Linked DNA regions of Homo sapiens. The protein of the gene in region 1 interacts with the protein of each later gene in a biochemical or structural test. Each region holds a gene or a part of one and is shown on either strand. Other genes may lie near its edges.

Region 1 (4,899 bases):
ATAGGGTCGCTAGGTCCCCATTTTGTCCATTTGAGGTATTTGCCCAGCATACCTTGGTCTGTAAAGAAATAGCACAGCCTTGGCTGGGCGCGGTGGCTCATGCTTATAATCCTAGCACTTTGGGAGGCCGAGGTGGGCAGATCTCCAAAAATAAATAATAATAATGATAATAACACAGCCTCATGAGTCTTTTTTTTTTTTTTTTTTTTGAGACAGGGTCTCACTCTGTCACTCAGGCTGGAGTACAGTGGCACAATCACAGCTCACTGCAGCCTCAACTACCCTGGGTTTAGTGATCCTCCCACCTCAGCCTCTCAAGTAGCTGAGACTACAGGTACACACCACCACACCTGGCTAATATTGTATTTTTAGTAGAGACAGGGTTTTGCCATGTTTCCCAGGCTGGTCTTGAACTCCTGAACTCAAGCGATTCGCCTGCCTCAGCCTCCCAAAGTGTTGGGATTACAGGTGTGAACCACTACACCTGGCCTGCCCTTTCTTTTCTCTTAAAAATTCTTAAGAAAGCATGGTCCTGTTTAACAAATAAGCATTTTACAAACATTTATCGATCAATTACTATATGCCAGGCCTGGCACTAGGCACCAAGTCCTCTTCAACAGTGTTAACATTAAGTTTCAATAAACTTGAGTCAGTAGGAATTCAGTAAATAATTTTTAAAGATTGTTTTCTTTTTAAATATGTATTTATAAACAAAAATTTTAGAGAATTAAAAGAAACTATCACGAAGTGCATGATGATAAAAGTCTTATATACTCTCCAAAGAAAATGTTAAGACATACCTTAAGGAGATAGTGAAGAACAGCCGGGCACAGTGGCTCACACCTGTAATCCCAGCACTTGGGCGGCCAAAGCAGGCAGATCATCTGAGGTCAGGAGTTGGAGACAAGCCTGGCCAACATGTTGAAACCCTGTCTCTACCAAAATACAAAAATTAGCCGGGCATGATGGCAGGCGCCTGTAATCCCAGCTACTTGGGAGACTGAGGCACGAGAATTGCTTGAACCCGGGAGGCAGATGTTTCAGCGAGCTGAGATCGTGCCACTGCACTCCAGCCTGGTCGACAGAGCAAGATCCTGTCTCAAAAAGAGGAAAAAAGAAAAGAAAAGAAAAGATAGTGAGAAAATAACTGAACATAAAACATAAAGAAAAGTTGAAATATTAGTACTCACTACCTAGGTTCAACAATTGCTAACTCTTTGCCGTATTTGCTCCATCTATACCTATTTCTTTCTGAATTACTTGTAAGTTGCAGATAAAATAATACTTCACTCCTAAATAATTCAGTACTCATCTAAGAATAAAGGCATTCCTCTATCTAACCACAATTCCATCATTAGGCCTAAGAGGATAAACAGTAAGTCCTTAATATCATCTGATAGCTAGTGCAGATTTAACCTTCCCCATTTGTCCCCCAAATGTCTTCTATACCATTTTTTAAAAAAAGAATCTAATTTTTAAAAATAAGAACATATTTTGCAGTTGGGTCTCATGCTTCTTTCTTCAACATTGGATGTTTTTAAAGATTACGCCAGTTCTCTTGTACCAGGTCCCACTTTCTGAATTCGTTGTTGCCTCATGGTTAATTTGTTCCTCTACCCACTTTATTTCTCATAAGCTCCAAGTTAGGACTAAAAGCATGATTTGATTTTGATTGAACGTTTTTTGCAAGGTGCCACTGGGTGCTCCATATTGCATCTTATCAGGAGGTACAGAATGCCAGGTTGTTCCACTGTGCATGATGCCAAGTTTGATCAGGGCTTGAGGTAGTGATCTTGCTCAGAGGATCTCTTGTTGTACAGGCACTTTTTCACCCTTTGCAATTAGCGAGTACTCTCAGGGGGTATCTCAAAGTGTATCTCATAAACACTTTGGCATGGTGGCAATATCCTATTTCCCAACAAACTCTCACCCGGTGACTTTAGGTAATAATCTTTGCCTAAATTGATTATTTCATTGGAGTTCATATATATTTTTAATACGCTTTGAAGATGGACTCGACATGCAAATTCATCATTATCAGCAGCAATAGTGGCTGGAAATATTTATTGAGTGCATAAGTTCAGGTAATAATAATAATAGTAGGTAATGTTTATTGAGTGCTTGCTGTGGAGCCAAGACAGCCTCGGTGTGAGCCCAGTCTTTCACTTACTAAGCGAATGAACTGGGACGAGTTATTCTTTTTGTGCTTCAGTTTCTTAAGCTATAAAATGGGATTACTAATGGTGCCTATCTCGTGGGATTGTTCTGAAGAGTAAACGATTTATACATTTAAGGTTCCTAAAACAGTGCCTGTTATTATTGTTATTTGCCAAGCATTGTTCTAATACTTTGTAGGTACTAACTCGTCTACTTCTTCTAATGGTGCAATGAAGAAAGTGCTAATAATACCCTTTTTTCACAATGAGGAAACTGAGGTACGGAGAGGTCTAGTACGTTGCACAAGGTCACTTAACTAGTACCTGGTGGAGCCAGGATTTGAACCCAGGCTGTCTGGTTCCTGAGCACTCTCTCTGATGATGGGCACATGCAGTGAGGAGTGATACAAGTGGAGCTGAGTGGAAGTAGCCCTCACACACACTCAGACTTGAAGTTATTGAAAATCCGGGAGGTTGCCACCCAAACACATTTAAGGTTTAATTCATCTGAATAAGAACAGCATTCCACTAAGCCCAGATAAGTACTCTTATTACATTTACATAGCTTAAGGCTCTGTACAAGAAACCTTGAACATAAAATACTTGGAACAGAAAAGAGTAGGAGAACTATGAAGTAATGGGGGGAAAAAATCCCTGAAAGGAACAATACAAGCGGGGAGTTATGAGACCTGGGACCTCAGAGCCTCGGGGTGGAAGATGATATTTTGATATAATCAGGAGGGAGAAATTTCCTCTCATTTTTCACATTTCTGTACTATATAAGATTTTACCATAAAACGCAAGAGTATAAGCCATTGTCAGATTTATAAAAGGCCATGGTGGATTTCCTTAAGAGACGATGGATGACTGTTGTTAGTAGGTAAATTCCCTGGTTGGTTATCTCATACACTCAGATATTCCATAAGTCAGCCTGTGGCTTCTGAAACTGTATTGAGAAAAAGCTGTATAAACTAGGTGTTGGTCCATGCTCCTTCATTAGCATTACAAAAGGGTTCGACTGCTGAGTTGAATCTTATCCACTCCTTCAGTGGCCATTACAGAAAGCTCTCAAGTGTAATTTTCTAAAGAGAACTAAAAATAAATAAGAAAAAAAAAATCCAGCATTAATAATGGTTCTTTTTGCATTTCCAACACAGTCATTGCCAAATTGGTTCTGCCTTTTTATGTTTTTTAATGAAAAGCAGCCTAATTGATCAATTGGTCATGAATAATACTTCTTCGTTTGTTTTTCTCCACACCCCCCAGCCTTCTAGAACCACGGGCTTAATGTGTCGGCCTACAAATGGTTCATGATTTGTGTTTTTTGTCTAGTGCTTTATGGGAAAATATTAGAAACAAACTGCTGAGAACTCAGTAGGAACTCAGTAAATAATAAGTAGATAGTTCTCTTGTTAAATATGATTTTAAAGAAACTCTTTCTAAATAACTAGGAAATATTACAAGGGAAGTACAAAGTGGGGTGGAAAGCCTGGCTGACTTGTAATTTGAAATTTCTCTTCATCATTTTATAGGTCACACAGTTTAACCCTTTATAAAACAAAATGTAAAGTCTGATAGCTGAAAAGGCTCTCCTCCGCTAAATAGATTTGTTTGAAAATATAGATCATTAAATCGGTAAGAATAACAGGAGAATCTCAACCAAACATTGAGACAACTAAGAAAATTGTCTAAATCTAATACCTTATATCAGTACTTTAAGTTGACCATAAATACGCTGATATCCATAGCACATAGGTTCTTACTGGCAGTGGTGGGGTGGGTGGGGGAAGGGGAGTGTCACAGACACATTCAAGATGTCAACGAAAACTATGAAAACTCTCCCCAATGGGGAAAAAAAACCAACGATGCCTAGCACTTATCCTACGCAACTTTGTACAGAATTTCCGTGGGAAATTCTGGTGTCCATCCATCATAAATCACCTGGTGTCCACCCATATATCCTGAATAGGAAAAATTGTCTTTCTCTAGAGTTATTGTACACTGATCCTGATGGAGCTTTAAAAAGAGTTGTCGTACAGGCTCATTGACTTTGGGAGGACAAGGTGGGAGGATTGCTTGAGCGCAGGAGATTGAGACCAGCCTGGGCAACATGGTGAGGCCCCATCTCTACAAGATATTCTTTTAAAAAATTAGCCAGGCCCAGTGGCCCGCACCTGTAGTCCAAGTTACTCCAGAGGCTGAGGCAGGAGGATCCCTTGAGCCCAAGAGATCAAGGCTGCAGTAAGCCGTGTTCACACCGCTACACTCCAGCCTGGGCAACAGAGTGAGATCCTGTCTCAAAAAATAAATAAGTAAATAAAAAGAGTTGCCATTATCTTGTTTGATCTGGCTATGATCTTTGAGGTAGACAGACCACAGATTTTACCTCTCATTCTGCAGAGTGGGAAAAGCAAGGCTTGGAGAGTTTCCGGGACTTGCTCAAGGTAATTTGCTAATGTCTGCCGGGACGTAGCACCAAGCCTGTCACGCTGTAGGCTGGGCCCCTTCCACAACACTGGTCCAAACACAGGATTCTGGAGATGCAGGAGCCCTCGATGGGCTTCTGGAAAGCTGAATTCTGGCTCTACCAGAGCTACCCACGTGATCTTAAACAAGTCACCTAACTTCCCTGAGCTTCAGTTTCTTCCTTAGTCAAGTGAGAGGTTAGACTGTGTGTTCTCTGAAGCCCTTTGATTTTCTGCAGAAAACCACCTAATCCCACTGGGTCTGGGAACAGAGGGAA
Region 2 (4,899 bases), on another chromosome or scaffold:
CCTCACCTATAAAATAGAGAGTTATGGCCGGGTACAGGCCGGCTCACACCTGTAATCCCAACTCTTTGGGAGGCCAAGGCAGGAGAATTGCTTGAGCTCAGGAGTTCAAGACCAGCCTGGGCAACATAGCGAGACCCGATCCTTTTAAAAATTTTACAAAATAAATAAAAAATAGAGAGTTATATCAGACGACCAAAATCCTTTCCGTGAAGCTCTGAAAACTTTTAATTGGTCTTTCAGAATGTGTTTAACTTCTTAAATTTTTAAATTTATTCATATGCTTATATATCAGAGTTTGAAGTATTTATAAATAGTTGATTTCTCATGCTGTTGGTCAAGGTGAAAAAGAAATCTGTGATTTATGTGCCCGTTTACTTTGTAACTATATCTATTACTTGTATATATTAGTAAACATATATTATTTTCTTTATTCTGTCTCTGTTGGAGTAATTTGGTCTAAAACCTGGTTTATTTGAATGGTGAAAAGAAGCGTATCTTAATTAAAATAACTTCTCAAAGAGAAATGTTTGTCAGAAAAATGTAAACCTTTCCTAGCACTTGGAAAATAAAAATTCTTTATTTTGTTCTGTTTTAGGACTGTACGAAAAGAATATATCACTGCAAAGTATGTAGATCATAGGTTTTCAAGGAAGACCTGTTCAACTTCATCAGCTAAACTAAATGAATTGCTTGAGGCCATCAAATCCAGGGATTTACTTGCACTAATTCAAGTCTATGCAGAAGGGGTAGAGCTAATGGAACCACTGCTGGAACCTGGGCAGGTAAGGCCTCACTAAAATCATTGGATAAAAAGTAATGTGGAAAATCAGTTTAAAAGGTGACTTATTTTAACATTATACCATATAATGAGATTCTTATACATTGGGTGGCCATGTCTAAATCAAGAGAATATGAGAGTGAAGAGGTGTGCTCCTTATAATTACTTGGGGGCAACTGATATATATGAAGCCTCCCTTGGCAGAGCATATTATTGACTTACTTATACTTTTCTTTCCCTTTTTAGGAGCTTGGGGAGACAGCCCTTCACCTTGCCGTCCGAACTGCAGATCAGACATCTCTCCATTTGGTTGACTTCCTTGTACAAAACTGGTATCGTTTTTGTTTTCTCTGTTGAATTACCTGAATATGCCTTATAAATTAACACAAACCAGTCCTATCAGTGGCCTAGATCGGGAATTGGCAAGCTTTTTCTGTGTCATGCTAGATATAAAAATTATTTTTGGCTTTGCAGGCATGAAGTCTCTCTGTCAGAGCTATTCACTTCTGCCATGGTAGTGTGAAAGCAGCCACTGACAATGTGTAAACAAGCAAGTGTGGCTGTATTCCAATGAAACTTTATTATTTTGTTTATAAAAACAGACAGTGAACCAGATATGGCCTACAGGCTGTAGTTTGCCATCTCTTGGCCTTTATAAATGTAAAATTATGTCTGTATCCAAAAATCTGCTGCACAGATTGGACACATTTGCTAACCGTTAGGAGAGGTTAAAAGAGAGAAGACTTAACAGCACAGGTCAACCATATTTGTGAGTTTTCATTGTTCCTAAATTTAATATAAGACAGCAGCAGTGTGTGTGGCTGGATCAATAGCTCATTCAAGTTTGGGATATACTGATGGAAGTATAAGAGTGAATATAGGAAGTTTGGACTTGCTGGATTCTTTATTCTCTTTATCTGTTCTGTAAGCAACAGATGATGAGGAGGAACTAGAGCTCATCTAAAGAAGAAGATCAAAATAGTGAGGGGATTTGAACCCATAGAGGAAAAATGGTACATAGACACAAGCCAAATTGTATAAAAGTCCAGGTTTCTTCCTCAGAGACAATATAGCATAGTGGCTCAAAACATTGGCTCCAGAGATAGATTACCTGTGTTCAAATATCCCTGCTTCACCATCCCTATCTTGAAAATCTTGAAAGCAAGCACTTCAGCCTCTCTGCGCTTCAGGGTTTTTTATCTGTAAAAGCGGTTATTATTAGTATTTACCCCATCATATAGTTGTAAAGATTCAATGAACTAATACATGTAAATGTTAAGAAACAGTGTCTGTCCCATAGGACCTGGCACTCTAAATAAATACTGCCTGTTATCACTGTATTGCTTATAAATCTAGGTTAGAAACATCATAATTTTCTCTATTATAATAATTAGGTCTCAAATTTGACTCAGTTGTCAGCACAAAAATAAGTGGCTAATCTATAGTTTTAAGTTATAAAGTAAGTCATTTTTTTCTAATCATCATCTAATTTTTCAGTGGGAACCTGGATAAGCAGACGGCCCTGGGAAACACAGTTCTACACTACTGTAGTATGTACAGTAAACCTGAGTGTTTGAAGCTTTTGCTCAGGAGCAAGCCCACTGTGGATATAGGTAAGAGTGTGTCTAGTGTCTTCATGACTGTAGTAAGCGTGTGTTGCATGGTACATTGTAATTTGATTATTGTTCCTTGCCTTCTTAAGGTGTTTCCTAGATAATTATGCAAATTAATTTTTTTCCTATTTCAGTTAACCAGGCTGGAGAAACTGCCCTAGACATAGCAAAGAGACTAAAAGCTACCCAGTGTGAAGATCTGGTAAGCAAAAATGGACGTGGGAGATTTATTAGACATTGGCTGCCTTAAAAGTGTCATTCTGAGAAGCTAGAATTGAATATTAAAAATGCAGATTCATTTTTTTTTAACACTTGCTAAAGAAAATCAGATGAGCAATGTGCTACATTAGAAAAAGTGGTAAAATGATAAATTTGTCATCCACATGTTTTTGGAATGCAGTTAAAGGAGGTGAAAGGCATTACACAAGTATTATTACCAGATCGACTTGTGCATTGAGGTCATGCTTTTTATTTCCCAGACCATTAGACTTTCTCTGCAGCTTAATAGTAAAGAATTATTTGAGAAGCTGCTCCAAAAATTGGGCAAGTAAAGCTCAGAGAGTAGTGGTCTTCAAAATGTTAACACACTGTTCTCCCAGCCCCTCCCCTTCCTGTGCACATTCACCTTTTTTGACCCTACTAGTTCTTGCTTAGCAAGTCAGGGCCTTCACATTAGTGTGATTCTCTTGAGTTTCTGCTAAGTGCCAGGTTCCAGGCCCACCAGTTGGGCCTTTTTATTCTTAAAAGAATCCTTTGAGACAATTATCCCTGCTCCCATTTTATGAATGAGAAAATGGGGCCACAGATTGGACTGGGACCTTAAAAGCCTACGTCTTAAACTTCAAAGACTCGTTTTGCCTTTCAGCCAGGAATTTGCAAGTTTGAGGCCCATTTAATAAGAAGAAAGCTTTTAATTTTGGAGACAAGTCATCAAAATAAAGAAGGCTCTGCCTGCAATTGTTTGCATTTCTTCTTGAGCCTGTCACATAGCAGTGCAGCTTGTCTAAGCAGAGTGTTGCCTATAGTACACCTACAGATGATTCATTGAAAACTAGGAATAAGGTGGGATTTGCTCAGTGTTTGTATAATATTGGGATGTTTCAGCATTTAAATTAAAATGGTGCACATTTGCTGTTCCTTCCAGCTTTCCCAGGCTAAATCTGGAAAGTTCAATCCACACGTCCACGTAGAATATGAGTGGAATCTTCGACAGGAGGAGATAGATGAGAGCGATGATGATCTGGATGACAAAGTGAGTGTAAATTATGTCCTCGAATTCTCAACAACTACCCCAACTTTTCTAGTCTGTGTAGACAAGATCCATTTTTGGTGAGATTGATTGATTGTGGTTTTATGATCCAATGTATCAGGGCCATTTATGTTGTTCAGTCCTTATTGGGCACCATTTAACAGCTATATTAAGGTTGTCCAGAGAAACAGAGCCAACAGGATAGGGAGAGAGACAGAGAAATTTTTTTTAAGGAATTGGCTCACATGATTGAAGGAGCTGTCAAGTTCAAAATGCACAGGGCAGGCCAGCAGGCTGGAAATCCCAGCAGGAGTTAATGTTGCAGTCTTCAGGCTAAAGACAGTCTGGAGGCAGCATTCCTTACCCTTTGGGGGACCTCAGTCTTTTTAAGGCCTTTCTTTGGCTGATTAGGTGAGGCACACCCACATCATGAAGGGTAGTTCCCTTGACTCGAAATCTACTCATTTAAATGGTAATTGCATCTAAAAAATTCCTTTACAGCAACATCTAGACTAGTATTTGACCAAACACCAGGACACTGTAGCCTGTTGACACATAAAATTAACCATGAAGCTAGGCATGGTGGCTCATGCCTATAATCCCAGCGCTTTGGGAGGCCAAGGCAGAACTATCGCTTGAGACCAGGAATTCGAGAGCAACCTAAGCAAAATGGTGAGACCCTGTCTCTACAAAGTAAATGGATCAATCAATAAAACGTGGTGGTGCTATTTGACAAGCTGAGGCAGGAGGATTGCTTGAGCCCAGGAGTTTGAGGCTGCAGTGAGCTATGATTGTACTACTGCACTCTTGACCTGAATGACAGAGCAAGACCCTATATCTTAAAAAAAAAAAAAAAAAAAATTAACCTTCAAAACAAGTAATTAGTAAGTAAATAACAGTTGTTATTTATTGAACATAATCATGCACTGTATAATAACATTTCAGTCCACAACACACTGCATACTCAATGGGGATCAATATAAGATTAAAACGGAGCTGAAAAATAGCCATCACCTAGTGATGCCATAGATGTCATAATACGGTAGTGCAACACATTCCTCAAATGGTTGTGGGATGCTGGTATAAACCAACCTACTGCACTGAGTTGTATAAAAATGTACAGTAATGTCCTAGGCCTTCACTCACACCCAGAGCAGCTTCCAGTCCTTCCAGCTCCATTTATGGAAAGTGTCCTACATAGATGTACCATTTTTTAATCTTATATAACATGTTTTTATTTTACCTCTTCTATGTTTAGA

Evidence for each region. The genes of interacting proteins can lie anywhere in the genome.
Region 2: the proteins of GRAP2 (region 1) and ASAP1 form a complex in vitro, tested with the Homo sapiens proteins (one study listed by IntAct).

Annotation. Positions count from the first base shown.
Region 1 is NC_000022.11:39,903,287-39,908,185, forward strand, and holds part of GRAP2 (GRB2-related adapter protein 2), read left to right. Parts: intron 1-4,899. UniProt on the Homo sapiens protein: Interacts with SLP-76 to regulate NF-AT activation. Binds to tyrosine-phosphorylated shc.
Region 2 is NC_000008.11:130,114,372-130,119,270, reverse strand, and holds part of ASAP1 (arf-GAP with SH3 domain, ANK repeat and PH domain-containing protein 1), read left to right. Parts: intron 1-595; coding exon 596-782; intron 783-1,024; coding exon 1,025-1,110; intron 1,111-2,275; coding exon 2,276-2,391; intron 2,392-2,525; coding exon 2,526-2,593; intron 2,594-3,256; coding exon of another isoform or gene 3,257-3,439; exon of another isoform or gene 3,440-3,457; intron 3,458-3,535; coding exon 3,536-3,643; intron 3,644-4,899. UniProt on the Homo sapiens protein: Possesses phosphatidylinositol 4,5-bisphosphate-dependent GTPase-activating protein activity for ARF1 (ADP ribosylation factor 1) and ARF5 and a lesser activity towards ARF6.